4 separate regions of the Homo sapiens genome follow, and regions 1, 2 and 3 are each linked to region 4. The links come from fine-mapping of genetic effects on gene expression. A gene starts in region 4. Each other region holds a variant in brackets. All regions are shown on one strand. Distances are between the middles of the regions.

What was found. PIP is the estimated chance that this variant, and not a neighbour inherited with it, causes the effect.
Region 1: its variant is the best candidate, but not a certain one, in a credible set for the expression of NAA30 in unexposed skin (GTEx, PIP 0.85).
Region 2: its variant is the best candidate, but not a certain one, in a credible set for the expression of NAA30 in whole blood (GTEx, PIP 0.68).
Region 3: its variant is the best candidate, but not a certain one, in a credible set for the expression of NAA30 in sun-exposed skin (GTEx, PIP 0.64).

The regions. Positions count from the first base shown.
Region 1 is chr14:57,480,046-57,488,153 of GRCh38, forward strand. It overlaps CCDC198 (coiled-coil domain containing 198), which reads right to left. Exons shown (of 6, transcript NM_018168.4): 3 at 3,020-3,106; 4 at 1,514-1,615; 5 at 550-709. Among named protein-coding and RNA genes, the nearest start is that of CCDC198, 9.8 kb to the right of the region's middle. The variant A/T (reference allele first, on the strand shown) is at 4,046.
Region 2 is chr14:57,463,321-57,471,428 of GRCh38, forward strand. It overlaps CCDC198 (coiled-coil domain containing 198), which reads right to left. Exons shown (of 6, transcript NM_018168.4): 6 at 5,980-8,108. The coding sequence ends at 8,035. Among named protein-coding and RNA genes, the nearest start is that of CCDC198, 26 kb to the right of the region's middle. The variant G/A (reference allele first, on the strand shown) is at 4,092.
Region 3 is chr14:57,325,585-57,333,692 of GRCh38, forward strand. No RefSeq gene overlaps it. Among named protein-coding and RNA genes, the nearest start is that of AP5M1, 61 kb to the left of the region's middle. The variant G/C (reference allele first, on the strand shown) is at 4,512.
Region 4 is chr14:57,386,675-57,394,782 of GRCh38, forward strand. NAA30 (N-alpha-acetyltransferase 30, NatC catalytic subunit) reads left to right here and starts at 3,912. Exons shown (of 5, transcript NM_001011713.3): 1 at 3,912-4,031; 2 at 4,283-5,054. The coding sequence starts at 4,284. RefSeq lists an enhancer at 3,896-4,891 and silencers at 4,020-4,159, 4,290-4,439.

The sequences.
Region 1 (8,108 bases), 93 kb after region 4:
GGGAGATAGGGAAGAGTGACATTGGAGGCCTGGTTCACTGAGCCAGTAGATCAGCAGGAACAGCAAGCTTAGGTTGGGCAGTGATTCATTCTAGAAATTCTGAATGTGCCAAAGAGAGTTGACCTCCACAGAAAAGGGTGCAGTCAGGAAGATAAGTGTCTGCATATGGTACCAACTCTGCTGAAGCAAATTTGCCATGTGACTGCCGGCAATATATCTTCATATGCTTCATTCTCTCTAACCACAAGATGAGGCTATTTTGCCTTTTCTGCTTCTAGGGATGAGGCAAGACTTGCAATGAAGCATGCAAAGCATATTAAACCCATACAAAGAAAGAGACATTTAATTACCAAGCTTAAGCTTCTGTCTTTTCCTCCCAGCCATCCAAAATTACATGACAACATGCCCACTATATTCTGGGAAGTAAAAATCTCAGCAAGAGCTCAAAGCTGTTTGCTGTCTTCTCATCATGTCCCTCCCTTGGTAGTTTATTTGATGAAGTTTTAAAAACACTTGAAATGTTTTACTAAAAAATTGTACATGACTCACCGGGACCTCTGTTCAAGATTTCATCAGGCAACATGGTTAGAAGGTCATGGTCATCATTCCTTGGGGTGCTTTGAAGGGTTTTCTTGGCTTTATGGTCCCTTGGACTTTGCTTATTAATTCTTGCCTCTCCATGAAGACTTTTCTTTAACTCCATTTGGGCCTGAAAATCATCAACTATAAATGATCAATGTTCTTCCCAAGCTACTTTCACCAGACTAGATCAACAGATCAGCCACTTTGCAAGTTGTGTGCTTATCTGTAGACATCTGCAGTCCTCTAACCAGAACATGGTTTTCTTTTTCCTATTAGAAGGTATGGGAACTTTATTTATTGACAGGCTTGTTAAGAGAAAGGTGAGTGCACCCAGTCTCAAAAAGGTATGGCTCAATTAAGATGAGGACCTTTACAAAAGTGTGTTTCTGTCAGCTAGCTGATATGATTGGAGTTCCAGAGAGCAGTAACTAAAGGCTCATTTCCTAGAGGGAGGAATTTGGAACATGACAGTTACAGGCATTACTGGTAAAGGGTTTTTTTGTTTGTTTGGTTGGTTGGTTGTTTTTTTTACAAGAGGTCTTTCTTGTTAGATAATTCTATGGCAAGAATTATAGAGAGAGGCCTAGGTATCAGAATAAAGAACAACTCACCCCCTCCTCCTTTCACTAAACCAAGAAAAATGATCTAGCCCCATTTTCCTATGTCCAGAATGTCATAGGAGCAAACTGTTTTTAAAAATGGAGACTTGCGACACAGATACACAGATACAAACTTAGAAAAGACTCAACAAGGTTATCAGCAGAAGGAATCTTCCTGATTCTTCTCAGCTTTAGTAGTTGAACCTTCAACCTCAATGACGAAATTTAAAATGCTAAGTAAAGACTGGCTATCTATGCTTGATATATTCATGTGGCAGGGCAGTGATTATGTGATGAAAATTTGGTAAATATGACACTCTTCTCGTATTTACCTCTTGTCTTTTACGGATCATTTCCAGCACTTGCATCTTATGCAAATATTGTCTGTTCTCAGAAGTATACATTGGAGTTTGCATTTTCTTTTCTAGTACCTGCTATGAAAGACAACACACTTGTTAGTATGGGGTAATTTGTTACTGACTCTGCAATTCACAAGTTTAGATCCTTTTTGAAACAGAGTCAGATCTTAATCAGTCATAACCTGTAGAGATATCTTGTGATGACAAAAGTGGACTATCGTGTGTCCCTGACAAGTCCTTTGTGTCACTATCAATGAATGAAGTGGCTCTTTGATGTGTATATATGTAGTTTTTTAGGTTGCTATAGAGTTTTGTAAACCTTAAATGGGAATATCTTTCCACATCTCATTTTTGGCAAGATATCACTTCCTTTGTAAACAGATGCTTATTACCACCTCTCCAGAATTGTGTTCTGGTTTGAGGAAACCTTTCTTTTTCTCCCTGCCTCTTTTACCATTGAGTAATTGGCTGGCTATGAAATGAGAGGGAAGCTGCTGAATGGTGAAATGGAACCTATTTCTATAGAGTGCATTTCCATATGCCAGCATAAGCCTTGGAGAATATTGCAGTTTAGGGAGGATTTGAAGTTGATTATTTGTGACTCTGAACATCTCCCCGCCAGTGCATCATAAACTCCAGTGGGACAGTGCAGACGGTTATTGAGGGCAGCCAGAGGTCAATATACCTTCATTTGTCATTTGCTGTTGCCAGGAAAGATGATGTGTTTGACAATACCTTTTGTGTTGCTGTGTGGATAGTGACTGTCAGCTGATGTGAACCTCAGGGAGGGGCCATCTCCACAGATGCTGTCAGCACCACAAACGTGGGCTTGAGGATGTGACAGCACCTGGACATCTTTGTCAAGTCAGCCAGCCACACAGCAGCACCTAGCAAGCTCCAAAACAAATTAGGAGTGGAAAGTGTTGAAAATCTGCTTCTACCTCTAAGCTTTCATTTCTATGTGAGGGGAGTTCTAGTCAACAGAACATTATAAGTGCATAGCAGGGAAAAGATACACAGAAGACATTTCCCAGGATTAATTTTTGGTGAGGTTGTGTCAAATAAGTCAGGAATAACTTGTAGATAAGATTTCTCCTGCAAACTGAGAATAAAAAGTTTTAAACTGAGGGGAGGAATGAAAGGGAGGACTTATGCTGAATTTTTCACAGATTTGAAAACTTCAGAATCACCAATTTCTAAGTAAAAGTCTTTTCTCATCTACATTGCCCTGGTTTTCAACACAAAGCAGAAAAGGGTGCAGAGCTCATGCAAGAGGTAATAGCCACTGCCAGTTGGAGGCATGCACAGAAGAGAATAAATAGCTTTGAAAAGTTCTCACTCTGAATGACTTAACAGTTTGATTTGTCTTTGAACTCCTCCATGCAGAGAGTGCATGAAAGGACCAGTGTGCTCCAGTGCCCCAATCCTGTGTCGCCCACCCCCAGTTCACCTCCCTGTCAGGTTACTGCTGCAGCTCACCTTTGCTTTGTGCATTGTCCTGGCTTCTCGCTGGCTCAGGAGTCTTCCTGAAGTAATTACTCGTGGCAAGTCAATGGGTTCAAGCTTCTAGAAGTTCAACGTTTAGAGCAGTCAGCATTCCTCATGCCATGAGATGATGAAACAGAAAAGCCAGACATTAAATTATCTTAACACTTTGCAAAAGCGGCACTTATTTCTGAGAGCATACAGGAAAGGTGATTCTAACAGCATTACAGTTATATTGGTACAAAGGGCTTTTCAACCTATCTGGGTTCTTTATTATTCTAGTGCACTGTCGACAGTGCCTTATTGATCTAAGTGTTGGTCAGAGAGTTAGGAGACTAAGATACTCTTCTGTCTGCATTAAGGGACCATGTCCAAAGTTATCAAACCACCAGGATCTTAGAATATTAGAGATAAAAGAGGCGCTAGGAATTTATTTTATTTCACACATCCCTTAGGTACCCAGCTGAACTATTCCAGCCCTTAGGGAAGCAATCTGTTTTTAAGATCTCTAGAGAAGCTCCTTAGTAGTAATCACTGGTGATTATGAGACACATTTAAAATGAAACTGCAGTGTGCTAACACATTTTAGAGATGTCCTTTTCTAGCAGGGGCTTGGCTTGATAGGGGAGATCATGTTGGCATTTCAGGGGGTCACTAAGACTGGGCAGCAATTCATGTCAACCGGTCTGCCTCCAGCCGGATCTTGATCACTGAGAAGTGATCAAGCAGGTTTGGGAGACAAAGTCTGGTCTCTTGACATTGACATGCAATGGGGAACGTGGAGGGCCACAGAGTTTATGTGTTCCTTCAGTGACTACTTAATGACTGCTACATGCCAGACATGGGGATGCAACGGTCACCAAAAGTGGATGTGGCCCCTCATGGAGCTTACAATCTATGCATAATAGATGTACATTTGCTTGTGTGATTATTCAAGTGATAATTACACTGCAGGGCAGAAAAAACCTGCAGGGCAGAAAAAATCTGCAGGGCAGAACTATGACACTACATAACTGAAGG[A/T]CTCCACCTGAAAAACAGGGTGTGTTAGGGGTTGAATTGTGCCTCCCCACAAAATTCATATGTTGAAGCCCTAGCCCTCCATACCTCAGAATCGGAACTTATTTGGAAATAGGGTCATTGCAGATATAATTAGTTAAGATGAAGTCATGCTGGAGTAGGGCAAGCCCCTAATTCAATATGATAACGTCCTCATTAAAAAGGGGAAATCTGGACACAGACACACACACAGGCAGGACACGATGTGAAGATGAAGAGAGAGGTTGGGGCGATGGTTCTTCAAGCCAATGAACAGCACCCAAGAGTGCCAGAAAACTACCTAAAGCTAGGAGAGAGTCGTGGAACAGATCTTCCTCACAGGCCTCACAGGGAACCAACCCTATGGACACCTTGATCTCAGTCTTCTAGCAAACTAAGGCAGGAGGGAAAGGGCTAGGGAGGCAGTTCAAGAAAGTGCCTTAAGGTAGTACCTTTTTAGTAGAAATTGGAAGATTGGGAGTTTTTAAGGGACTAAGTTGTGCCATAGCCCTGAGGTGGGGAGTGATCATGATCTCTTGAAGGAATGGAAAGAAATTGGTTGGCTGCAGTTTACAGTAAGTGAAACAGCAGCTTGGAATGAGCTGAGAGGTGAGGCAGGGGCCAGGTCATGCAGGGCCTGACAGGCCATTAAGATAGTGGTCCCTTAAGAGCAATGAGAAGACACTGACATGCGTTAAGCAAAGGAGTGACACGAGTACATTTGCTTTTTAAAAAGGGTCATGCTGGCTGCAGTGTGGAAACTAGGAAGGAATAATTATGGATGTGGAGAGATCAGCTAAGAGGACAAAGATGATGGGCTGGGGTTGAGAGAGGGAAATTGATGAGCTCTACAAATGTTTAAAGCTGACCAAACAAGATTCATTATGGTTAGTAAAGGGGAGTAGAGTCCACAGTACAATGAATGGAGGGTGTTATCATACCCTGTGATGGGCAATCCAGAGGAAGACCTAGTTTGGGTAGGATGTAGAAGGAAAATACAAATTTGGTGTGCAATAGATTGAGTTTGAGACACCTTTAAGACAGGCCAGTGTAGATGTTGAGTTATACAGGGAGCTTGGGAGGAGAGGTCTGTGCTGGAGATTTTGGGGAATAATCCCAGAGTAGAGCATGAGTGAAGCCCAGGTCATGGGCAAGGTCAGGAGTGAGAAGAGAAGAGCCAACAACTGCAGACTCCAGGAGTTCCAGTGGTGAGGCTGGTGCCCAGGAATAAGCTGGCCAAGGAGACTGGGAAGTGATGGCTCAAGAAGTAGGAGGAAAACCATGAGGACATCATGCTGCTGCAAAGAGTGTGAGCCCTACTCCCACCTTAGTCCAACGCTGAAGGCACATGCTAATTTACTTTAAAATGGTTTAGTTTTAGTGTGATTTGTTGCATTATTAAGGGGGTAGATTTGGAAGTTAACTTGGCTTTCAAGGTGACCAGAATAAAAAGAGAGAGTGGAACCACGGAAGATAGATACTGGATATTCAGCACTTGTAATGGGGAGCATGACCTGGGTTCCCCACTACTTCCCTGTACAACCACTTCTAGGTCCCTGGTCCTGGACTGGAGAGCACCCAGCAGTCCTTTCTGCTGGAGCAGCCCAAAGTAGACCTGGTAAGGAAGAGAAGAAGGGCAAAGGATGTGGAGACAAAGAAGAGACAACAAGGGGGAAGAGCTCATCTTTGTGTTAGATATATACCAGATAGTAATTTGCATTTGTGGTGGGAAGTGGTTCTCTGTTCCATTCTCACCTCAGAGGAGGAAGTGGGTCTTTTAACATAACTTAGCAAAGATGTAATGAGAGGAGATCAATCCTAGTAAGAGGAGTTTGTCTGTTCCCTGAGTCTTAACTCTGCAGGACATGAAGATGCAAAGCAAATGGGACCTGCTGGCACAAGAGGCAGCTTCTGATCAAGTCAGAACCCTGCAAGAAAAGGGGAAGGAGAAGAAGGGGAGGGGAGGCCAAGGGAGAGGAGCCCCTCAAGGCACCTATGGGAGGAAGAATCAGGAATGACTGAAGGGGGATTTCTGGAAGCTGGGGAGAACAAATATTTGTGCCATCCTCTGGACATGGAGAGTGTTCAGGATTTGGTTCTTTCTCATTAGGCCTATATGCCTTCGCAGCCATTACTGCACGCCATGCCCAGGGTTATAAATATGTAATCTCATTCAATCTTCATGTGAACTCCGTGGATAATTACGAAGATTCCCCATTTCAGACAGGTTGCTGACTTGTCCAAGGTTGAACAGCTAGAAAGTGGCATCTCCAGGATTTAAGCGCAAGTGTGTCCAGCTCCAAATCTAAAGCTCTTTTCTGCACTATATGTTATCCAAAATGGCTTATCATCAGACTTTTCCGGGATTAAAAAAAAAAAAAGAAATTCTTGGCCCCTTCACTAGAGATTGAGATTCAACAGGTCTGGGGTATGTCCTGGAAATAAATATTTTCAAAACTCTCCCAGGGATTCTGATGATTTCTTTCTAGGTTGGGGGCCATTGACTTCCACATTGCCTTAAGTGAATAAAGGAACGACATCATAATAGACTACGGAGGATTTTTTTATGTGGAATATTTTTGAAAAATTGAGTCTGAAGAAGCCAAGAATTTTTAGTTTTATTAAACTAATCTATCCATAAATTCATGGACCAAGTTTTTGCTTTGATAGTATAAATATGTAGTTTCACAGATCTCTTTCTTCCATTTTCAGCCTTTCTATTTAAACACACAATTCTAATAAGGGTTCAGTGGTAGATATCTTCAAGAACTCTCTCCAGGTTGAGTTTCTCCCTGGCGTTTGAAAAGAGCCCAAGGAATCACACTATTCCTTCACAAAAGCCACTAGATGGCAGCAACTAACATTGCACCTGGGATCTCTTCATTAAATCCTTTGCCACTTGATTTGAGAAGCACTGCAGAAAATTGTTGGTGAAATTGGCTTCTGCTAAATTAACCAGTCAGATGAAATTGCCTCAGAATTCTGGGTTTGTGTGCATGTTCCTTTTCCCTGCCCAGGAAGTGAGATGCCTCACTTCATCATCTTCAAAGAGAACACAATGGAAGGAACTACCAGAGAATCGGTTAGAATGACACCTTATTTTCACTTTATAATGTAAGTATCATTTGTCTAAAGACTTCTGGATTATTTGACTTCTCAAACAAAACAAATGATCAGCATAATCAGTTGAAGCGTCTGCTAGGAGATTTGGGAATCTGGTGAAGGGCCAGGGGACTCAAGAGTGCTGATATGGGGGTTGCAATGTCAATTGATTGGTCAGGGTGGGTCTTATAGGGACAGTGAGATTTGAACAAATATTTGAAGATGAGGGAGTTATCCAAGGAGATCATCTGAGGACACACTATATGTGTGGGGGAAACACCTCCAATTTAAGCTAGACCTGAAATGGTTGGATAAGAAGGTGATCAGGCCAGAGGGGACAGTGCTAATCAACTCCTCAATAAAAAGGCCCATTTGATTCGGAGTTCCCTGGCAGAGGCTCTCAAAGCCTCTCAGCTCCAGGCTGGATAACGCTAGTTCATGACTTGCTCTTTATTTGAGGAGTAGATGTTTAGGAAGTAGAAGGTGCCAAAAATATATCTCAAATAATTTAGCATACAATTAGATTTGGTTTAATAATTTAAAATAATTTTAGAATTTTCTTTGGCAGAAATTAGGCTATTAATTAGCATGTCATGAGGACCCAGCATGTATTATTCTCTCAAAAACTCATTTGTGCTGGAAAATGTGCTGAGCTTCATTTGTGAAGATAATTATAGCTGATCTCTTTGGGAGTGTCTGCCAAGTTTCTAGTGATTTCCCTCCTCTCTGGGAGCTGACTTCAGAGTCTACAGGGGAGATGACTCTGCCCACATATCTACTGCATGAGCATATCCTCTGGCCATAGCTCATTGGACCAGAGCTGAAATCATGAGCAAAGCTGAGCCGATATCCTTTCTCCTAGGAATCTGGAATTGGAGTCAAAAAGGCCAATCTGTCCATTTGACTGGAACTGTAAGATACAAGCTCAGGGTGGCCATATTTCATT
Region 2 (8,108 bases), 77 kb after region 4:
AAATCCTCTGTGTTCCACCTATTCAACTCTTTCTCTCCCCTAATCCCTGGCAACCACTGATTTTTTTTTTTTTTTTTTTTTTTTTTTTTTTTGAGACAGAGTCTTGCTCTGTCACCCAGGTTGGAGTGCAGTGGCGTGATCCCAGCTCACTGCAAGCTCCGCCTCCCGGGTTCACGCGATTCTCCTGCCTCAGCCTCCAGAGTAGCTGGCACTACAGGTGCCCACCACCACGCCTGGCTAATTTTTTTGTATTTTTAGTAGAGACAGGGTTTCCCCGTGTTAGCTGGGATGGTCTCCATCTCCTGACCTCATGATCCACCTACCTTGGCCTCCCAAAGTGCTGGGATTACAGGCATGAGCCACCGCGCTGGCCACTTTTGCACATTTTACAAAAACATGTAACCAAGTTGTAGTAAGCTCTTGGCGCCCCCATCGTATCCCCACAGGCCTTAATTTGGCTTGGCTTTTACCAGCATCTGTATCTGTGAGCCTGAGAACTTCTCTCCACAGATAGACCTGAGGATACATGGCATTTAAGAAGTACCAGATAATTAATTCTTCTTCCCTCATGCTCTGGCAGCCATCAACCAATGACTGACTAAAGGTGGTGTATCAGACCCCAGCATACTTCTTCTATAGATGAGATAACTTTGAGGCACAGAATTCCCCAGCAGGATTAAGCCTGGTACCCAGAATAGTAACTTCCTTGATTATGCCCCTTGATTGGCAGCTTTCCCTGTCTCACTTTACTCCTCTACTGGTATTTCGTGGCATCAGCTCCAACATAAACTGCTTGCATTTCATCCTTGTCTGCTCCTGGAGAACTGTAATGAAAACTCATGTAAATGATTTGCTAGTGCTCCTCCCAGGGCAGAGGACTGTGTGCACGAGGGGCCTTGAAGCTGAAGCTTCCTGAGCTTCATGGTACGTTGCCTCCACCTGTTTGCTACTTCAGGAGGGCAACATCTGTGGACTACAGCACAGTAATAATGGCAGCAAGACATGTTTTGGTAGAGAGTGCCTGAGATAGGCCCCTCATCTCCCTGCCCCATAGGTTATGGAGAATATTTAAGAAGTTTCCAAGGCTTCCAAAGCAGAGTAGGGGGAGGGGAGCTGAGAATTGAGAGCCATGGGGATTTCTTAGCACAGCATGAGGCATGGACAGCCTACCTTAGGGACTGTATAGAAGATATAGTTGATTATTTAAGGATGAGTCACACCCTCTAGACTGAGGTGGTGACCATCTCAGCAGGAGAAAACCACTGGGCTTCTTCCTGAGCAATCATTACACAAGGCTAGTGCTGAGAGTATGGTGGGAAGTGACACCAGCCAGGGAGGTTGGGGTAGATGCTCAGGAGAGAAAGGCCGATGCCCAAGATCATCAAGATGGGTATCGTTCAGTCGAGGCCAGTTTGGACAAAGGATGGCACCAATGAGCTATTCCCCACATGCCCCCAGGATAGCACCATAATCAAGGCCTGTGTGTCTTCCCCCAGCCATGGACCCTGGCTGGGGAGGAAAAAGGGAGAGTGGGAGAGAATCCTGAGGGTGCACTTCAAGCCAGGAGTGACAAAAGTACCCTGGATTGGTAAGAGCACAGTTTTCAATAGTAATGGAAAGGGGAGCTTGAGACTTGGAGTTACAGAGAAAGGATATTCCAAGATAGTGTACCCTGAGACATCTCCCTTGTGATCGGTGAACTCACTATTTACCCTTGAGCATTTGTCTTTGCACAGTGTTCTGTTGGATAAATTCCGAGAAATGGTTTGCAAAAGCTGTTGATTTTAAAATATAGTTCTTTTATCCAACACCCATTTAATTCCATTATTAAATCAAAAAATGTTTCAGTTGATTCCCTTGGGTAGTCCAGCCATATAATTACTTCCCCTGCTAATTGTGATGCATTTATTTTCATGGTTCCGTAGTTGTGTACTTCTGGCTTTTGTTCTGTCTTGTTGAACTGATTAGACTTCTAGAACCACTCTCACACACAAAATCTTATTTTATTCCTAATTTCAATGGTAATAACATTGTTTGGTAACTAGTGTGTATTGAGCAGTTATTATGTGTCAGGCATTGTTCTAAGCACTTTATGTGTATTATCTTATTTCATTGCCACAACACACTGTTAGGTTGGCATTATCCTTTTCCCCATTTTACAGTGAGGATGCTGGCCAGACAGGTGAAATAATTACCTAAGAGAGGGATTGGCCAAGCTGGGCTGTGACTTCTGGCTCCAGAGCCTGGTGGGTCTTACTTCTAGCCAGTTGTGTCAGTAAATGCTTAATATCAGCTTTCTGAAAAAAGCCCTGATCTGCAACATTCACTAATTTTTCTGGTGTAAATGTTCCCACCATGGCCGGCATGGCATCACTGAACACAGATTGGGAAGAGATCCTCATGGTTCCTTTTGAGAGCTGGTGCTGGCCACTCATGCCGATTCCAGCACACCACAGCCTCTGCTGTTGTGTCATGAGGCAAGGAGGTGGCTGCTGCTTAAGATATCTATTAGTTGAAGTTGTTTGATTTTAAGAAGCAGAAATCGGTTGGAGCTGGCCCAAGCAGAAAGCACAATTTATGATAGGGATACAGTCTCAGAATGAAGGGCAGGGGGCAGCAGGGCCTTGGGAAGGACTGGGAATGAGGAACAGATGTACTGTCAGGCCTCAGTGGGTCTCTCTGGTTCTTTGCTACAGGTCAGCATTCTCTGCATCTCTGGCCTACAGGGCAGAGCACTGCCACCCATTGCTCCTGAGCTTCCTCGCTGAGCTTCCTGCCACCAGCAGAAACCAAGGCCCTCTCTGATTGCTCAGTGGGTCCAGGGTCAGCCCCAGGTCAGCTAGCTATGGCCATGTGACTTTAGTGGGTCTGTTTGCCTTTGTTCATGATTATATTGGAGATATCAGTCTAGACCACAAGTATTCCTTTCTGACTCTAAAACTGTATTACACTTCAAACCCATTGTCATACCATGCTCCTCTGGGCTTCTCACATCTGGGCCCTGACCAGCTTTCTGACATCATCCCTGTTTGTCTCTCCTTTGGTCGCTCTGTCATTCTGGCCTTCTTGTTGGCTCTTGAACCTTATAAGCTCATTCTTGTCTCAGGACCTTTGCACCTGCTCTTCTGGTGTTTGTAAAGCCTGTTCCATGGATCTTCTCATGGTTCACACCTTCCCTTCATTCATGGTTTTTCCTCAGAGTCTCTCCCTGAGCATCCTGCCTCAAGCAGTTCACTCCATCCCTGCCTACCCTGTTATCTGATTTATTTTTCTTAATCATGCTTAACATTACATTAAGTTGTATTATCTTGTACTTGACTATCTGCTCGTGATCTCCCCCACTGGAATGTAACCCATGGGTCCAGGGACTTTGTCTTGTTGATGGCTATATTCTCAGCATCTGCAACAGTACTTGGCATGTAGTAATACTCAAACCCACTCATTGAATGCATGATTAAATGATACACAAATGAATGAATTGCAGACTTATTATAAAGTACATATCTTTAAAAAATCCTTAACTATTGACTTAGTTTCCAATTGTGTTATTGTGTATTCTGTACTTGAATGAAATAGCATTTCTCTTAAAATGAGATGTAATTCAGATTTTTAATGGTCGGACCTTCCATAACCTACCCTTTAGCATACTTTCTCCGAAGCCTTCCCTGTAGCAATCTAAATTGGTGAGGTTTTGCAGTAATATGTGGAAATAGGCTTTTATTGTTTATTCAAGGCAGAAAATAGTTGATGTTAATTATAATTTGATGACCATTATGTTTCTGTGGTAAGAAAGGGAGGGGCACAAAGAGCTGGGGTTCTATTTTCTGTTTTTAAAGGCTCTATGTAAGCAGAAAACATTATCCATTTGTTCACAAGTCTATTTCATAGGTGACTCCTACAAAAGTTACGTTTAGTTAAATCCCAGTATAGTAACTCTGAATTATCATCAAAATAAGTACGTGATGAAAAACAACACTCTGCCTGAAAAAAAATTGAGAAAAATATATTTCCAAAAGTATTCAAGCAAAAAAAGATATTTCTCTTTCTAATGAAAAATTCAGAGCAAGAAGGAAAATATTATTTTCACAAGA[G/A]GAAGTATGAATTTAGTCCTAGACAAGCCTATTTTCTTTCCAAAGCTGGAGAGATTTTCAGCTGAAGAAAATTGACAGCTTTACCTCTAGGCTGAATTTTATAGCTTTTATCAGCAACAGCTGGTTTTATGATGGCCGTACATTGCCCTGAACAAATTCGAGATTAACTGTAGGATTGGTGTTCTCAGAAAATTACTTACAAAATGAACATTTCTCTTACTGTTTTGTGAAGCTCCAGGCCTAATGTCCTTAACTTTAAAAAACTATCTCAGAAGTTCTTTCTTTTATAGCTAGAAGGTGATATAATCTGGTAAAATAGAATGTTCTTATTGCTAAAGCTGTAATTTTCAAACTTAGCTGTGTGATAGATTCACCTGGAAGCTTAAAAAAAAAAAACTCAACCACCCAATGCCAGAGCTCTACTCCAACCCAATTAAATCAAAAGGTGGGGCCCAGAAATCTTGGTTGTTATTAGTTTTTGATCATTGACAGGTGATTCTAACCTGTCGCCAGCATCGAGAACTGCTACCCTTGAGTCCTTGTCACATTGTGCAACTGAGCTACCTGCTACCCTTGAGTCTTTGTCACAGTGTGCAACTGATCCACCCTGGATGGGGCTTTTCAGTGGGGATGCTCACCTATGCTGCCCCCAGGCCAGGGGTCTCCAACCCCTGGGCTGTGGACAGGTGCTGGTCTGGTCCATGGCCTGTTAGGAACTGGGCCGTACACAAGAGGTGAGTGGTGGGCAATGGAGCATTACTGCCTGAGCTCCCCCTCCTGTCAGGTCAGCAGAGGCATTAGATTCTCATAGGAGTGTGAACCCTATTGTGAACTACACAGGCAAGGGATCTAAGCTGCATGCTCCTTATGAGAATCTCATGCCTGATGATCTGAGGTGGAACAGTTTCGTCCTGAAACCATCCCCTGTCTCACCCATCTGTGGAAAAATTGTCTTTCACAAAACTGGTCCCTGGTGCTGAAAGGTTGGGGACTGATTCCCTAGGCCAAATTGGGAAGACAGTTAAGGTTTCCTTTACTCTCTCATCTGCCTTTCTTCTGTGCTTTTATCCTCCCTTTGCCTGCAGTTCGGCTATCAGTTAAGCTATTCCTTGCTAAAAGATAATTCCACAAAGCTCTCACCCTTTCTAGTGTACTATTACCTCTTCCCCACTCCTCCCAAAAGGAACCACACCATGTAATGCAAAAGAAATACAGAGTGCTGTGTAATGTAGTTGGTGAGTTGGAAGTAAAATTGAGGAAAGGAGGGAAGAGTCCTTGGCTTCTATCAGGTCACTTTTGGTAAACAATAGTCTACTCCAAAGGGAAGTTCTGCTAGGTGACTCTGGCAACTTACTTAACCTTTCTGTGTCCCAATTTCCTCATCTTTAAGATGGGGATGATATTAATACTGACCTACAAAATCATTATGAGGATTAAATAGGTAAAATATTTGAAGAGTACTGGCCCACAATAAACAGGAAATGCATGTTGGCAATTATTACTATAATTATTACTCCTTTAAAATCCTTGAATTCATCATAACTGCATTATAAGGAGTTCTACATGGAGCTGGCTAATAAACAGAGAAGGCATTAGGATGGATTTTCTTTGGAAGCTAACACACTCTGATAGTTTTGAAAAGTATTTTGAGCTATGGCATCCTTATTGGCATATACACATAGTTCCTGTATCCCAAGGCAATGCTTAATTTTGGCCATTCATTTAGATGTATAAACGGCAACAGCTTTTGCAAGAAAAAGTCATTTTCTTTACTATATAATCAACCTTGTCTATCCAAGACTCCTGGGAGATGATGGAAATGAGGGTGAGCAACTGCATAGCTGGAGAGAAACAAGTGTTTCTCTAATTGACTAGTCAACTCAACACATTCATTAATTCAGCAAACATTTAATGATAAACTCTTTGCCAGCTGTCCTGCTAGGAAGCAGAAATACCATACAAAGAAGACATGGTTTATGCCCTCATGTAGCTCACAGTTCATTAAGCTTGTGGAAGTGGGTTTCGTGAAATTGAATTTTAAGTCACATAACAGAATGGTGAAGACGTGCCTTTGGCTCCACTAATTTTAGTGTTCAAAGTTATCCATCCCATTTTTTGTGTTTTAAGCCTTCCAAATTGACCACAATAAGTGAGGACACCATGAATAGGTTGGATTTGTTTATCCTCTCAAGGATCTCATTTTTTCTAGAAAGCTGGCTAGTCAAACAATGCATGCTTTCTTTTGGTGGAAATATGCTTCTTACCTACCACAGAAAAAGTAAGAAGACTACTCACAAAGAACTGGGAATAGATATGGCCTGGGACAATCTAATAGCCTTCTGTCCTTGGAAGAAACATGAATTTTTATCACCTGACATCTCAGGCTTGTTATCTTCTTAGTTTCTGATGTGAATGCATTGAATGTCAAATTGAAGTGGTGTTTTCCTCTATTTTTTTCTGTTTTTGGAGTCTTCCCATATAAGGCACAAAAGGGTCTTTTTGTTTTGCTTTGTTTTAAAGCTTTAATAAATTCTTGGAAGATTCTGGATTGCTTGAAATTATTTTTAGATTATGCTAAACATGGAGCTGCATTTTACACAAAAGTTCTTAAAAATTGTCCCAAAAGCTAATTTTTCCAAGTGGAATAACTTTAGAATTGAACATTTATAAGATTCGCTTTATGTTTTAAGGAGCTCTAAAATCTACATCATAATCTAAGAAGTCTTAATTTTGAACTTTAATTCACAACGATCTTCTACACGTGACATTATCTCACGTGTATCCTGTAGGCTCTCTGTTACGGTTAGCTCACTAGAAAGTGACCTAAGTGAGCTTAGTGTTTAATGCAGCATTACTGTGAATTTCCTTTAGAAACTCACTTTTATTTGTCTCCAGTCTACTTTTTCATCTATTTGTTTTTGGTTTTTTGTTTTTTAATTTTGAGACAGAGTCTCATTCTGTCGCCCAGGCTGGAGTGCAGTGGAGTGATCTTGGCTCATTGCAACCTCTATCTCCTGGGTTCAAGCAATTCTTTTGCCTCAGCCTTCGCATCAAGTAGCTGGGATTACAGACGAATGCCACCATGTCTGGCTAATTTTTGTATTTTAGTAGAGACGGTGTCTCACCATGTTGGCCAGGCTGGTCTTGAACTCCTGACCTCAAGTGATCTGCCCACCTCGGCCTCCCAAAGTGCTGGGATTACAGGTGTGAGCCACCACATCCAGCCCATCTATTTGTTTTATGTAATCTAATTTTCTTTTTAAAAACATGGTGAGGTGGCAAATGTCAAAGATGAACCCCAAAGGACCACACTTTGGCACTCATGCCCTTGTGTAGTCCTCTTCTGCATTAACTCCAAGCTGGTCTATGACTTTAACCAACAGAACATGGTGGAAGTGATGCAAAGTCAGTTCTATGACTAGCTTTTAAGAAGACTGGCAACTTCTGTTTCCTCCTCTTGAGACAATTGCTTTTGGGAGCCCTGGGCTCATATGAGAGAAATCTCTGCAGTGTCCTGCTGAAGAGATCATATGCAGATGCTCTGAGGCTACATGGATAGGGGGCAAGGTCCCCCTGTGTCAGTGTCCTAATGGGGCCTCTGGATGACTCCAGTCTTAGTAGTCCAAATGTAGTCCAATTTCAATGACATGAAAGATTTCAAAAGGGAACAGCAGAAGAACCACCTAGCTGAACTCAGCAACCCACAGGAAAGTGAGACAATAAAATGGCTCTTGGTTAGCCCCTGTGTTTTGAGGCATTTAGTTATGCAGCAATAGTTAACAGCACATGTGACGGACTTGTTAATCATAAGACTCTAAAGATATCATTTCTTTTTACCAAAGTGATTTGCTGTCCTCAAAGTAATTCATATATCAGTTTGGAAGATTTTGAGAGTAAAACAAGCTTTCAAAGCACTCAGTTTCTAGGTTAATGAATAGTATTCTTATTCTTGATCAAAAAACTCATCGAAAAGTGGGATTCTCTCTGTCCTGGTCCTCACCAGTGCTCGTGGCTTCT
Region 3 (8,108 bases), 61 kb before region 4:
CAGCTAACCAAAGATTTGGAAGAAGCAGGATTAAACACGAAGGTTTGAGGAAGGTGTGTTATAAAATGTTTAGAAAATAGAAAATGGGAGAAAAAATGACAGCAGTCCAAAATAATCATGATGATAATTTTGACTTTCTAGTCTTTAGAAAAAGTATTACATATAACTACACATATTTTTACATGTAAGTAATCACACTACATGTTTAACTTCGTCTCTCCCACTGAATATAGATAAAGACCACAGAATTCAAGAAGCAACTGCCTGGGAACTCTGAGAAGTATAACAAAGCAGTTTGAGGAAGAAATTCAAAACTCAAAGAATGGCTGCGCGAGGTGGCTCACACCTATAAGGCCAACACATTGGAAGGCTGAAGTGGGAGGATTGCTTGAGCCCAGGAGTTTGAGACCAGCCTGGGCAACATAGAGAGACCTTGTCTCTACCAAAAAAAAAAAAAAATTTTTTTTTTTTTAATTAGCTGGGCCTGGTAGTACATACTTATGGTCCCAGCTACTTGGGATGCTAAGACGGGAGGATGGCTTGAGCCCAGGAGGTCAAGACTTCAGTAAGCCATGACAGCACCATGGCATTCCAGCCAGGGTGACAAAGGGAGACCCCCTTTTCTAACAAAATAAAACAAAAACTGAAGAAAAACTGCAATGGTGTTAGTAATGGTGATCTTTGTTTCTTTGGGGGTGGGCAATTTTTGATTTGGGGCTTTTTTTTTTTTTTTTGCTTTTACTGGAGGGTGGGTCACATCACAAAACTGCTCGGCAGATGCAGACGACAAAAACCGTCGGGCCAGAAGACTGGCAATAAAAACCACTGCAAACTGAAGAGTGCGGGGGAAGTCCCTGTTTTTCACCTTCCCCTTTTTCCTCTCCCTGACCTGACCTGAGGCCAATCATGCATCTCCGTGTCATGGCATGCATGTGGTGAAGGTTGTAGAGGAGTCTCCATTATTTTTCTCTCCACTTCTCTCTCACTCCCCCTCTGAGAGTGGGCCCAGTTGTATGGAACTGGGAGTTTCATTAGCACAGAGGTTAAAACTCTTAACGAACCCCATCTCTCCTGCCAGAGGAACCAGGAAAAGAGATCACTGGAAGTTAGACAGTGTGGAGGAAATCTCAGAGAGGAGAGATTTTGAGAATGAACCTAATTCTGTGAATGAACTGACACAAGTCCTAGCCTTACCTCCAAGCTGTCCATGGGGGAATACACACACACTCACACATACACACACACACACACATACACAAGCATAGTAAAGGCTTTGAGAACTGAACTAGTATTGGAACTACTGCTCAAAGAGAGAATTTGTAATCTCAACCTATGAGGGTTTTTGCCTGCTGAAACAAACAAAATGAACATTCTCCAGAGAATTTTAGCAGGACTCAGAGACTCACAACATAATATTTAAAATGTTCAGGATACAATCCAAAATTACTTGATATGTAAATAACCTTGAAAATTGGATCAATTCTCAAGAGAATAAACAATCAACTAATGTCAAACCCAATGAATTAGTCAGGATTCTTTAGAGGGACAGAACCAATGGAATAGATTTATACATAAAGGGGAGTTTATTAAGTATTAACTCACACCCTCACAAGGTCCCACAATAGGCCATCTGCAGGCTGAGGAGCAAGGAGAGCCAGTCCTAGTTCCAAAACTGAAGAACTTGGAGTCCGATGTTCAAGAGCAGGAAGCATCCAGCACGGGAGAAAGATGTAGGCTGGGAGGCTAGGCCAGTCTTTTCACACTTTTCTGCCTGCTTATAGTGTAGCCTCACTGGCAGCTGATTAGATTCTGCCCATGAAGATTAAGGGTGGGTCTGCCTTTCCCAGCCCACTGACTCAGATATTAATCTCCTTTGGCAACACCCTCATAGACACACCCAGGATCAATACTTTGTATCCTTCAATCCAATCAAGTTGACACTCATTATAACCATCACAAGTCCACCCCTTGTTAACTTGAACCCATACACATCTCCTGAGATCATACATAATCTTCGAATAAAGACAATAATAAGGTCATAATTACACTTAACAATACAACTATCCTTCATACAACCAGAAATGCACCCATCCCCAATCCAAATACTATTACATAAAGTTAACAATACTTAAATGCTGATGTGAAGTCAATAAATCTTATGTCACATGGTAAAGGAGAAAGGAAATAAAGTGAAGATATTTTCTTAGTACAAGTGTATACATGCACAAACATGTTTTTAACAAAAGAAGGAGGAAATATTCATGACAATTACAGTCCTGTTTCTGCAGCCAGACACATGGTCATAGCTGGTATTGATGACTACCTTCTACTACCCATTCTGTATTCCCTTTGCCTTCAGCAAGCACCTCAGCAGGTCATGGTTTTTTCCTGGTGGAGTGACCCAAACCTTCATTCCTGAAGGGTCTGGATCATTTGTAGTCCTGCCTGGATTGGGCTGTTGTAGTTTCCCATTGACCTTAATCATAGGGCATGGTAATACTAAGAGACGCCCTAATGGATCTCCTGTATTCCATGCACATTTTTCCTTACCTCCATTGTGGAGTGGTAGACTGATTTCACCTTGATAATCCAGGTCAATCACCCCAGCCAACACTGTAATTCCCTTCTTAGCCTGTTGGCTTAAAGGTAGGAGAAGCCCAAAGTGTCCAGGTGGCAATCTTAACTTCCAGTTTAATGGAATCGTTGTTGTGTCTCCTGGTGGCAGCATTTCTCCCTCTGGAACTAAGACCTCTAGGCCACAGAACGTAATGTCGCAGGAAAAGGAAGCAAAAATTTTGCTAGTAGATCACTAGGGGTGATGGTGAGTGGTGCCACTTCCACTTCCACCCCTTGATTACTGGACCTGTGAATCCTGGCTATGGGAGAAACAATATCACATATTGGATGCTGATTCAGAGCATATGGGGCCTTCTGGAGAATTTTGCCCCAACCCTGCAAAGTACATTGTACTTTGTGACTTGTAATTGTAATTGTGACTTCAAAAGGCCATTCCACTGTTCTATCAATCCAGCTGCTTCAGGATGATAGGGAACAGGGTAAGACCAGTGAATTCCATAAGCATGAACCCACTGCTGCATTTCTTTAGCTGTAAAGTGAGTGCCTCAGTCAGAGGCAATGCTGTATGCAATACCATGACGGTGGATAAGGCATTCTGTGTGTCCATGGATGGTAGTCTTGGCAGAAGAATTGCATGCAGGATAGGCAAACCCATATCAGCAGTAAGCATCTATTCCAGTGAGGACAAACCTCTGCCCTTTCCATGATGGAAGATGTCCAATATAATCAACCTGCCACCAGGTAGCTGGCTGATCACCCTGAGGAATGGTGCCATATTGAGGGCTCAGTGTTAGTCTCTGCTGCTGGCAAATTGGGCACTCAGCAGTGGCCATAACCAGGTCAGCCTTGGTGAGTGGGAGTCCATGTTGCTGAGCCCATGTGTAACCTCTCTCCCCGCCACCATGGTCACTTTGTTCATGGGCACATTAGGTGATGACAGGGGTGGCTAGGGAAAGGGGCTGAGAGGTGTCCACAGAACAGGTCACCCTATCCATTTGATTATTAAGATCCTTCTCTGCTGAGGTCACCCATTGGTGAGCACTCACATGGGATACAAATGTCTTCACAGTTTTTGACAACTCATTGTGGTCCATCCACATAACTCTTCCCCAAATTTCTTTGTCACCAATTTTCCAATCATGCTTCTTCCAAGTGTCTGACCATCCAGCCAAATCATTGGCTACAGTCCATGAATCAGTATATAATCACACATCTGGCCATTTCTCCTTCCATGCAAAGTGCACAACCAGGTGCACTCTCGAATTTCTGCCCACTGGGAATATTTTCCTACACCGCTTTCCTTCAGGGATGTCCTAGAAAGGGGTTGTAGTGTTGCGCTGTCCACTTTTGGGTGATGCTTGCATATCATGCAGAGCCATCTGTGAATCAGGCCCTGGTCTTCTCTTCCTCTGCCAACTGATCATAGGGAACTCCCCATGAGGCCATCGGTGTAGGCTGGGGAAGAGAAGGCAGGGTGGCAGGAGTGGAGACCATGGGGATTTGAGCCACTTCCTCATGTAACTTACTTGTGCCTTCAGGACCTGCTCGAGCCCAATCACATATATACCACTTCCATTGGATGATGGAATGCTGCTGTGCATGAACCACTTTATGGCTAGATGGGTCAGAAAGCACCCAATTCATGACAGACAGTTCAGGTCACATGGTGACTTGATGACTTATAGTCAAATGTTCAGTTTCCACCAAAGCTCAATAACAGGCCAAAAGCTGTCCTCAAAAGGAGAGTGGTTATCTGCAGAAGATGGCACAACTTTGCTCCAAAATCCTAGAGGCCTGTGATTTACCTATGGGGGCTTGCCACAGGCTCTAAACAGCATCCCTATCTGCCACTGACATCTCAAACACCATTGGATCTGCTGAGTCATATAGCTTAAGTGGCAGAGCAGCTTGCACAGCAGCCTGGACCTGTTGCA[G/C]AGCCTTCTCCTGTTCTGGATCCCACTCAAACTGGCAGCCTTTCAGGTCACTCAATAAATGGGCCAGAGTAACATACCCAAATGAGAAATGTTTTGCCTCCAAAATCCAAATAGGCCCACAAGGTGTTGTGTCTCTTTCTTGGTGGTAGGAGGGGCCAAATGCAACAACTTATCCTTTACCTTAGAAGGAATATCTCGACAGGCCCCACACCACTGGACCCCTAGAAATTTTACTGAACTAGTAAGTACCTGAATTTTAGTTGGATTTATTTCCCACCCTCTGGCATGCAAATGTCTCACCAATAAGTTCAGCGTGCTTGCTACTTCTTGATCACTAGATCCAGTCAGCAAAATGTCATCAATGTAGTGGACCCGTGTGATATCTCACATAAGTGAAAAGAGATCAAGTTCTCCCCAAATAAGATTATGACGTGAAGCCAGAGAGTTCATATACTCCTGAGGTAGGACAGTAAAGGTATATTTCTGGCCTTCCCAGCTGAAGGAAAATTGCTTCTGGTGGGCCTTATAGACAGGAATGGAGAAAAACACACTTGCTAAGTCAATGGCTGCATACCCGGTACCAGGAGATGTGTTAATTTGCTCAAGCAATGGAACCACATCTGGTACAGCAGCTGCAATTGGAGTCACCACTTGGTTAAGCCTAAGATAACCCACTGTCGTTCTCCAAGATCCATCTGTCTTCTGTACAGGCCAAATGGGAGAGCTGAACAGGGATGTGGTGAAAATCACCACCCCTGCATCTTTCAAGTCCTTGATGGTGGCACTAGCCTCTGCAATCCTTCCAGGGATGTGATATTGTTTTTATTTACTATTTTTCTAGGCAGAGGCAGCTCTAATGCCTTCCATTTGGCCTTTCCCACCAAAATAGCCCTCAACCTATCAGTCAGGGAGCCAATGTGGGGGTTCTGCCAGCTACTAGGTATGTCTATGCCAATTATGCATTCTGGCACTGGAGAAATGACCACAGGATGAGTCCCAGGACCCACTGGACCCACTGTAAGTCAAACCTGAGCTAAAACTCCATTAATTACCTGACCTCCATATGCCTCTACTTTAACTGGAGGACCACAATGACATTTTGGGTCCCCTGGAATCAACGTCAGCTCAGAGCCAGTGTCCAGTAGTCCCCAAAATATCTGATAATTTCCCTTTCCCCAGTGCACAGTTACTCTGTTAAAAGCCCAGAGGTCTCCTTGGGGAAGGATGGGAGAAAGATTTACTGCATAAATTGTCAGTAATGTAGTGAGGTCCTTCCTCAAGGGGACCTGGCCTCCCCTTCATTCAAGTGGCTTTGGGTTTGTAAACTCACTCAAGTCTGGAAATTGATTGAGGGGCCATGATTCTGTTTTTATAATTCAAATTAGTCTTTTGTCCATTTGAGCTAGAAGTCTTCTGCTTGTATAAATTAAGTAGGAATGCAGTAGGTTTCCTATTAATTTCACTTCTAGGAACACAGTGATTAATTAACCAGTGCCAGAGCTCTATACAAGTCAGACTATTCTGATTGCCACTTTGCCTCTGCTGTCCATTATGGCAGTAGCTATGCCCACCTTGCCTTTGACAGTTGAGTGCCACCACTTGGCCCCTCCCACCTCAGGATCCAATTATTCCCATTGTATTTAAATTTTGTAGTTGAGTGACTGTGGTTTCCACTGTTAGATCTGACATACAGAGAAGAGCAATTACAGGGCTCTTCAAAGATGCAGGTGCTGCCCTCACAAATCTGTTTTGCAAGGCATTGGTCAAGGGTGTATCTTCTGGACCCTCTCAGCTGGGATAAGTAGGTCTAAAGTGGCTAATCCACTCCACCATCCCAATCTCCCTAAGCCTTTGGATCCCTTCCTCTACATTAAACCAAGGGAGATCAGGCATTTCCAGCTCATTCACAGTGGGCCATCTTTTAATCCATATTTCAGCTAACAAAGCAAATAAATTATTAGAACTTTTTTGAACTCCTTGAGCTGCAACATTAAATGCAGAGTCCCTACTTAGTGGGCCCAAATCAATAAATTCAGCCTGATCCAACTCTATGTTCCTTCCACCATTATCCCACACCCTTAATATCCATTCCCATGCCTGTTCTTCAGATTTCTGCTTATATAAATTAGAAAACTCAAGCAGTTCTTTTTGAGTGTAGTGCACCTCCCCATAGGTCACACTCTCAACCTCACCTCTAGGGGCCTGCCAGGACTTTAGTCTAGTTATATGTCTAGAAGCAAACAGGGGTGTTGGGGGTGGCTCCTGATGAGAATCAACATTATCTTGCCTGGAAACTGCCTCAGGGAAGCCCATCACTGTTGTCTCAGGCAGCGCAAACTTTATCTCCTCAGACAAAGGTGGAAAGGCTGATGGCAGCATGGGTCGGGGAGGGGATGCTGCCACTACTGGGGATGGGGAAGCTGTTTGTTCTGGTAAAAAAGTTTCATCGAGAGAAGGCAGGAAAGGAGGCTGTGTGTGTGCAAGGTGTGGGGGTGGTTAGAGGATCCTTCTATGCTCCAAGTCAGCCCTGAGTCTCCATGACTCTTCTCTTTCTTCCCAAACACCCACTGAGCACTGTGGGGTATTGACCGCAGCCCTTACCTTCCAGGGACTTTGATGATGCATAAAATGAGGTCATCCTTGGAGTTGGCAGGAAAGTCAGAGAAGGAGGTGCTCCAGGAGGCAGGATTAAATCAGGAGTTATCAGGGTTTAGAAATTATAACATAAATCACAGCATCTACCACGTAGTAGGCACTGCTCTAAGCTCACAAAGTCCCCATAAGCCTTCAAGATAAATTCTATTATCATCCTCATTTTGCAGATTAGGAATTGAGGCACAGAGAGGTTAGGTAATTTGTGCAAGTCACACAGCTGAGAAATGGCAGAACTGGGATTTGAAACCCAGGCAGAGTGGGTCTGGATGTCATGATCTTAACCATGATGAAATTTACCAATGACCCTCTCCCTCTCCCTCTCCCTCACGGTCTCCCTCTCCCCACGGTCTCCCTCTCCCTCTCTTTCCACGGTCTCCCTCTGATGCCGAGCCGAAGCTGGACTGTACTGCTGCCATCTCGGCTCACTGCAACCTCCCTGCCTGATTCTCCTGCCTCAGCCTGCCGAGTGCCTGCGATTGCAGGCGCGCGCCGCCACGCCTGACTGGTTTTCGTATTTTTTTGTTGGAGACGGGGTTTCGCTGTGTTGGCCGGGCTGGCCTCCAGCTCCTAACCGCGAGTGATCCGCCAGCCTCGGCCTCCGGAGGTGCCGGGATTGCAGACGGTGTCTGGTTCACTCAGTGCTCAATGGTGCCCAGGCTGGAGTGCAGTGGCGTGATCTCGGCTCGCTACAACCTCCACCTCCCAGCCGCCTGCCTTGGCCTCCCAAAGTGCCCAGAGTGCAGCCTCTGCCCGGCCGCCACCCTGTCTAGGAAGTGAGGAGCGTCTCTGCCCGGCCGCCCATCGTCTGAGATGTGGGGAGTGCCTTTGCCCCGCCGCCCCGTCTGGGATGTGAGGAGCGCCTCTGCCCGGTTGCGACCCCGTCTGGGAGGTGAGGAGCGTCTCTGCCCAGCCGCCCCATCTGAGAAGGGAGGAGACCCTCCA
Region 4 (8,108 bases):
ACAGTTGCTGTTGGATGAAGCTGGCCTTGGAGACAGGTTAAAACAATTCTAGACAGCTGAAGGCATAGCTAAATTAGAGACCAAAAATTTTTTGGCTCTAATATGTAGGAATATATGATTCTCTCCAACATGTCTCACCAGCCCAGGTGTATCTGTGAGAATCACCCTGACCATGTCTTCAGGCAGGTCATGAAGAGTTAGTGTGAGGTTGAAAATAATGGAAATGGGGACCATTTGACCACAACCCTCTCTGGTTCTTCATAGTCCTCTGAGGCCTCAGTTCTACAAACAAAATTGATGCCTACCTACAATTGGTACTGCCATCCACTACTGGCAAGGGGAAAGAAGTTTAAAGAACAGACTGTCATTCCCCAAATTCGAAGGGAAGAATCAAATTGTTAGTCTTTTACCTGGGCATCTCAGAGTGTTCTAAGATTACAGGTAATACAACAATATACTAATATTCATCCTTTGGTTAAGTTCTTCAGCTCTCAAATTTGATGTATGTTCTTTCTTTCATTCAAGATGAAACAAAGTTAAGGACATTCATTTTCAGGGCTTTATGTATAATAGATAGGATTAGTGGGATTAAGAACCACATGACATGTAAAATAAAACTACACAAATATTTAAATTATTTAGTATGTGTGCCTATGGCACATAACAATGTCATCCTGCTGTGTCAAGGGAACTTAAAGCATCTTTCCATTATTCATTCCCACAGTTACCTTTCAGGTAGGTACACAGCTAGGTTTTCTCTCTAAACCTAGCCAATAAGAGAAAAATGCCTCACTGTTAGAAAGAATTAAATAGAAATTTTTCTCCTTCCAAGCTGATTTCAATAAATTGCTTCAGGATGTTGTTTTAAAATTGCTATTGGTTATTTTAATTGATTTAATGAGAAGCTTTTTTTTCTTCTAAAAAATTAAGGCATGTTCTCTTCTTCCTCAAAAGAGAACAACAATAGTAAAAAAAAAAAAAAAAGAAAAAAAAAGAAAAGAAAAAATGGCTGTTGCTTCATAGGATATTACAAAACAATGAAAATATCAACTAACCACACAGAAGAGTATCACTGCTACACTCACCTTGCTCTGAGCCCATTCTTTCCTATGAAGTATTGCTCATGGAGGTAGTTGTTTTTTCAGAGTCTCATAATAGTAAATATGTCTAAAGCATTAGAGTGAACTAATCCTATTTCTATGCCTAAAATAGTGCTATCATCCTATCAAGTAAACATGAATCAAATAGAAAAGATTTCATAAGTTATAAAGGCAATTTTTTTTAGAGATGTCATCTGATTTAGAAGGCCAACATTGTAATTTTAATACTGGGATATAAAGAAAAATCACTGGGGCTGAGACATTAGAATTACCCCACTAGTTATTGAGGAGGTCAGAATTTACTTTGTCATTATAAGCATTCTAGGTTACTGAATGAGAGACTGGTGTACTTCAGTCAAAAAGCTTAACAATTTCCCTTTTATGTGTTTGATATGTGAATACAAAGTGACTAACATTTACTCCCTGGCCTCAAGAAGGTCCTTACAACTCTTGACTTTCTGAAAACCACTTTGAGACAACATCTGGTCAGCTCCTCAGTGTGACAGAGCTCAATGCCAAGTTGCAACACAGAAAGAACAGGAAGGCCTGCTGCCATTCATTCACTACAGTGAAGGTACATGCTTTTTAGGAAGGGCTTACATTTAAAAGTAAATTACTGAGAGGTATTTTTCTAAGTAAAATTCACCCTTAAACATCTCTTATGGAATTATCTGGTGCCTCTTGGGCCAGTTTTTCCACCATGATTTGAACAGATCATTGTTTCATTGGCTGACTACCCAGGTTACACTTAGAAACTTTGAAAAACATGTATCTTTAAACAATGTATGCACATTTGGAAACATGGTTTTGTTTTGTGCTTTTTAAAAGACAGAAAAGGGATCACGCTGTACTTATACATCTCATTTATATCCCCCACACATCAAGGTGTTTAGGAGGTTTTCAATGTATCTGTAGCAAGTTATACATTCTGAAAATGGCCACAGCAATATTTCTGGTCCCATATGCTCTTTGAGAACCTTGCCTCTCTCCACCAAGAGTAGAGTCTATTTCCCCTCCTGTCAAAACTGGATATAATTTTGTGTCTGCCTAGATACAATGCAGCAGAACTGACACTACATAACTTGTTTTTTGTTTCTTTTTGATGAGAGGGAGTCTCCCTGTGTTGCCCAGGCTGGAGTGCAGTGGCGCAATCTCGGCTTACTGCAACCTCCGCCTCCCGGGTTCAAGTGATTCTCCTCAGCCTCCTGAGTAGCTGGGACTACAGGCATGAGCTACCACGCCCGGCTAATTTTTGTATTTTTCGGCAGAGATGAGGTTTCACTGTGTTGGCCAGGCTGGTCTCGAACTCCTGGCCTCAAGAGATCCTCCCGCCTGGGCCTCCCAAAATGCCAGGATTACAGGCGTGAGGCACCGCACCTGGCTAGAGACTACATGACTTCTAAGGCTAGGTTATAATGGGTAATATGCTTCTGATTGACTTTCTCGCACGATACTTGCCGTGGAACCCAGCCACCAGGCTGTGACAAAGCCCAAACCAATCAATGCTAAAAGACCACCGGGAGAGGTCTACATGGACTAGAACTGAGGCCTCCAGCCTTTATCCTGCATCAACCATCAGCGGTGAAAGTGAAGTTTTCAAATAATTCTACTCCTCAGCCTTAGAGTCTTCCAACTGAAGCTCTACGCATAATGGAGTAGAGAAAAGCCATCCCAGTTGTGCTCTGTCTGGATTTCAGAGGCACAGAATCTGCGAGCATAATAAATACTTTATACATAGAGTTTAGATTACGGCAAAAAGTTGCAAACGTGTTCCGTCATAGAATTATATATTGAAAACGTCCATCTGCGGCACACCAGACCAGCTCTATAAATCAGGTTTTTAACAAAACCGAATTTGTTCAGTGAGCGGGTGAGTTACACTACCTGTCTCAGCTCAGACCTGCCGGGAGTCAATTGTGGACTAGAGCAGAAGGCGCCCAGCCACAAGCTCAAGTTCTATCCCCTTTGCACTCGATAGGCAGATCCCCTGGGAGGATCAGGCCACCTGTTTACCAGTGCTTCCTAACCTATTTGTGTCACAAGTTTAGGAGTGTGCTTCTTAGCCCTGGTCACTCTCTTTCACCACCTCTCTCTAACCCTTCCCCAGGTGTGCTAGCAATTGCCCAACACCTGTCAGTCACTTTTGCCTCCAATTTTACTGGGTGCGAGGAGCAGAGTAAGGAGGGAGAGGAAGAGGGCTGACTCCCTTGCCTCAAAGTGGCAAGGGCCAGCTGAACTTAATTCACACTGCAAACCACCACGTTTCGACAGCCATCCCCATATTTTCACAGCTCAAATCTTCCTTTCTTTTTCGGTCGGCTTCTCTGATTTGCTCCATTTTTAATCGCTCCTCCCCCATCCTCCTTGCCCCTGGTCAGGGCAAACATTAAACGCTGTGCAGCTTTAAAAGGGCATTTTTAGGTGACTTGTAAACGGCTTGTTCCACAGGCCCCGAATTGGCGAGATTCGCTACAGCTCGGAGTGCGCGGTAGACTTTAAGCAGGGAGCGCCTGCCCGGTCCATCCCTCCCCGGCCCCGCGTGGCAAGCACCGCAGGTTGAGGCGCCCCCAAACCGAGGAAGAGGGTTTGGGAGCCTGTGACTCCAAAGCCCTCTGCAACTTCCCGGCCCCACAGCCCCACCCACTAGCACGCGGCCTTCCCCGCAGCCCGCAGGAGACACCTTTGTCCCCGCCCCTCCACAGGTCACCTCCCTCCACGCCCCTCTCTCTTGGCCCGGGCAGCCGGCAGGCAGGGAAGTGTCGTAAAGCCAGGCCCAGGAAACTTTACCCGGCCTAACAGCTGAGGCGCTTTACGGCGACGGCGGCTGAGTGAGAACCTTGGCGGCTGTGGAGGCTGCCGCGGCTGCGAAGGAGGCGGCGGCGGTGGCGGAGGAAGAGGAGTGGCGGCAGCGGCGGCGGGGACCCGTGCGGGGTGAGCCGTGAGGAGGGGCCGCGAGTGACAGGGCTGGCGGGTGGGCCCGGGCGGACGGGGACGGTGGCCGGCTGAGCAGCTGGGCGGCGCTGAAGAGCGGGGGGGTGGCGGGGAATTGGGGGGCAGCTCCGTGAGGGACGGTTTCTGCCTTTGTTCCCCCCACCTCGGCCGCCCCCCATCCGTCGCCCCCTGTTCTCCGCGCTCCTCGGCCGGGTTTCATGGCCTCCCCTCTCGGTCTGTGTCGCTTCTAGGATGGCGGAGGTACCGCCTGGGCCTAGCAGCCTCCTCCCACCACCAGCACCTCCGGCCCCGGCGGCGGTCGAGCCCCGCTGTCCCTTCCCGGCGGGGGCCGCCCTCGCCTGCTGCAGCGAGGACGAGGAGGACGACGAAGAGCACGAAGGCGGCGGCAGCAGGAGCCCGGCGGGCGGAGAGTCGGCGACGGTGGCGGCCAAGGGGCATCCGTGCCTCCGCTGCCCTCAGCCGCCGCAGGAGCAGCAGCAGCTCAACGGATTGATTAGCCCCGAACTGCGGCACCTCCGGGCGGCCGCCTCCCTCAAGAGCAAGGTCCTGAGCGTAGCAGAGGTGGCCGCGACCACAGCCACCCCTGACGGAGGCCCCAGAGCGACTGCAACAAAAGGAGCCGGGGTACACTCGGGCGAGAGGCCCCCTCACTCCCTCTCTAGTAATGCAAGAACTGCGGTCCCCAGCCCGGTGGAGGCAGCGGCGGCGAGCGATCCCGCGGCGGCCCGCAATGGACTGGCCGAGGGCACCGAGCAGGAGGAGGAGGAGGAAGACGAGCAGGTGCGGCTGCTGTCTTCGTCCCTGACCGCCGACTGCAGCTTAAGAAGCCCTTCGGGCAGGGAGGTTGAGCCTGGGGAGGATCGGACGATACGATATGTCCGATATGAATCCGAGCTACAAATGCCCGATATCATGAGACTGATCACCAAAGATCTGTCCGAACCCTACTCCATTTATACCTATAGATATTTTATCCACAACTGGCCACAGCTGTGCTTCTTGGTAAGTGGATAGAATAAAAAGAGGGTGAACCCAGCAGTGATCGAGACTGTGCGGGGCAGGGAGTGAGGGCCCAGAATGTGGCAGTGGATATCTCCTGCTGCGTATCATAGTACGTTATATGATGTCAAGTGCTGTACACATTCCTAGTTATTTAATGAAATTGTTTTGAAGGTAAGACTTCATGATTCGGGTTAACGTGATACTAGTGTAACTGCAGCAAGCCTGTATGGTGGCGTGTTTCACTGGGGTGGGGGTCTTGTGTCTTGTTTACATTAGATTATAATCGTGTTTAACCGTCTTTAATTACCCGCCCGCATCCTCAAACACTTTACAGTCATTTAATTTGAACATGGTTCTGTTCAGATACAGGCCTTATTAGTCTCTCGATTACAACCATAATCAGGGAAGAGTGTATGCATAAACATGTTGTGGTGAACATGGATGTCAGCAAACTTGGTGTGGTCATATTGGAGAATTAAATCTTACAAGCATTTTCGGTAATTATGGAGATGTTTCTCTTTACTTCAACTGGACAATTAACAGTTGTAGCCAGCCTGCTTTCTGGTACTCCATTCCAGAAAGCGCTACTAACACTTCTGGTGGCTGAAAGACTCCTGAAACTTGAACAAAATACCCTTTTGTGGAATGTAGAAAACTTGTGTGAAATTGTTACCGATCTGATTTTTTTTTTTTTAATTTAAGAAACTGGTTGTAGATGTGGCCAAACACTAGTAACACTGGCTTGTGTAGAGTATAATTGACAATAATATTACACGTAAGTGAAAGACTTTTGGACGGTTTTTAAAAATTAACATAGTATTGGCAGTACCAGTAATTTCTTCACAATAATATTGACCCATTTCAGTCTGTATGAACCCTTTAACTTAAACGTTGACTGCAGGTGTATGCTTTGTATCATGTGCTCACAAGCATATTGTTTCTGTTGAATTTTACTACAGAAAGATGACATCCTTTTAAGGAATATTTTTTAATATGTGAAGGGAAAAGCCACCATTACTTAATGTTTTAGCATTGGCTTAGTTTCACTTGGTAATTCCCTGCAAGATATTTTGACAATACTTATCTTTTTGATTCTCTAGCTTGGTGATAATTTGAAAATGTAACCTGGGTATTGTAGATAATGGTAGTTCTATTTTCTGTCTTAACTTGCTTAAACTTCAATTCAGTACATTTGTTAAAACTGTGGGTACTACTTTATATTCTTGAAAACTGCTCTTTCAGTATTCTAAGCATTGTATCAGAATAGTTCTAAGACATGTCTGTGTCAATGAATATGAGAAAATGATTTATAGCACTATTATAAATGTCATATCAAATGCCACTGTAATTGCTAAAAATTGTAGATTTAGTTGTAAGTTAACCCACAGAAGTAGATGATTGAGTCACATTTCAAGTTGAAATAGATGTTTTTCTGTCAATTCCAGGAAATAGTTGTGTATATGATATTTAGTCAACTTTGAGTCCTGATAGTTACCTAAGCCTCTCTCAACTTGTTTGCTATTTTAGACTCTGGTCAACAATATTAGTAAACTTTAGATTTGATTTTATGTAGAACCCTCCCAATTCACCAGCTAATGTGTATGTTAGCCTTTAGTAGCTCAAGTTTGTTTAATATTCTGAGTATCTAGAATTGCGATATGCACAAGTGGTTGACCTATAAGATTTACTGGTGCAAGTATGAATCAGGAGGTATTAAACAATAATAAAACAGTAAAAAAACAACCAGGCCATTTAAAACTGAAGCCTTTATCTTGGCATACTTTTAAATTTAAGTTTCCCATAGGAACTATTTTTTTAAAAATACAGATGCGTAAATGTCTGTTTATTTTAAATCATATCCTTTTAGAACTGAAAGCCATCCTAGAGATAATCTAGCCCAACTTAGGTTTTGTTCTGTTTTGTTTTTTGATTGAAAAAAAGTTAAGAACCAAAGTGACTTAAAATGTTTCAATCTCCAGATATTTACTGACAGAGGGGTAGGTTTTGTTTTGTTTTTTGATTGAAAAGAAGTTAAGAACCAAAGTGACTTAAAATGTTTCAATCTCCAGATATTTACCGTCGGAAGGGTAAAGCTAGAACCCAGTTCTCCTGGCCTCTCATTATGGTAACAAACAAGAACCTGAAAAATGACATACCCTTGATCCATTCAGTGAAGATTATTGTGTCACCAAGTTATCTTCACCAAGGGACAGTTGCCCTTACATCAATCTCAAGAGATTAAAAACCTCCAAAATGTTCCGTTTTCCGTGGATAACCTGTAATGGGTCAATGGAGTATATGGGGTTGAACCTTACAAAATTGCCAATACTTGATTAATAAAAATGATAGCTTATTATGATTCTTCCTAATTGTAAAAGATGTAAAAAAAAAAAAAAAAAAGGACAAATGTGAGACACTTTCAGTTACTCTGTACTTAACCATTTTATCTTTACCTGTTTTCATAGTAACATTTTCAGTTGTTGGTATCTTTTTGAAGTTCTTAAACTTACTCTCAGCAAATGTAACATAGTACTTCCATTTATTTGTTCTAAATTTAACTTTTTGGCTTCCTCCAGTTTTCTATTTGTAGTGTTCTAGAATTTGGGAATCTCTCACTTTATTTTTTTCATAGTTTTATAGACTGACAACCCTTTGGCCTTGTAGTGTTAAGTCTTAATCTTGCCGGGGATTTTTCAGTTCCCATCCTTGAAAAAATACATTTAATAGCGTGAATTCCAAATGTATATGCAGAGCTTTTATTTGGAAAAATTGACAAGCAATTTAGTGATTCCTGTAAATGTACCACATATTCATGAGTAGTTTATCAGGAAAAAAAAATGCAGCATTGGTCTTCACTACTAATGTCATCGTAATGGTGTATGATATATTGGGCTTTTTAGATGATGTATACAGCTTGATTTTTGCTCCTATAGATTCTAAATTAGGAAGAAATCAGGTCTTAAGAATGAACTAATTTAATATTTTGTTTGCTTATTCCATGCTCAAAGGACAAAGATTTGTTTGAAATTCCTGTTCAGATTGAAAGTACTGTCC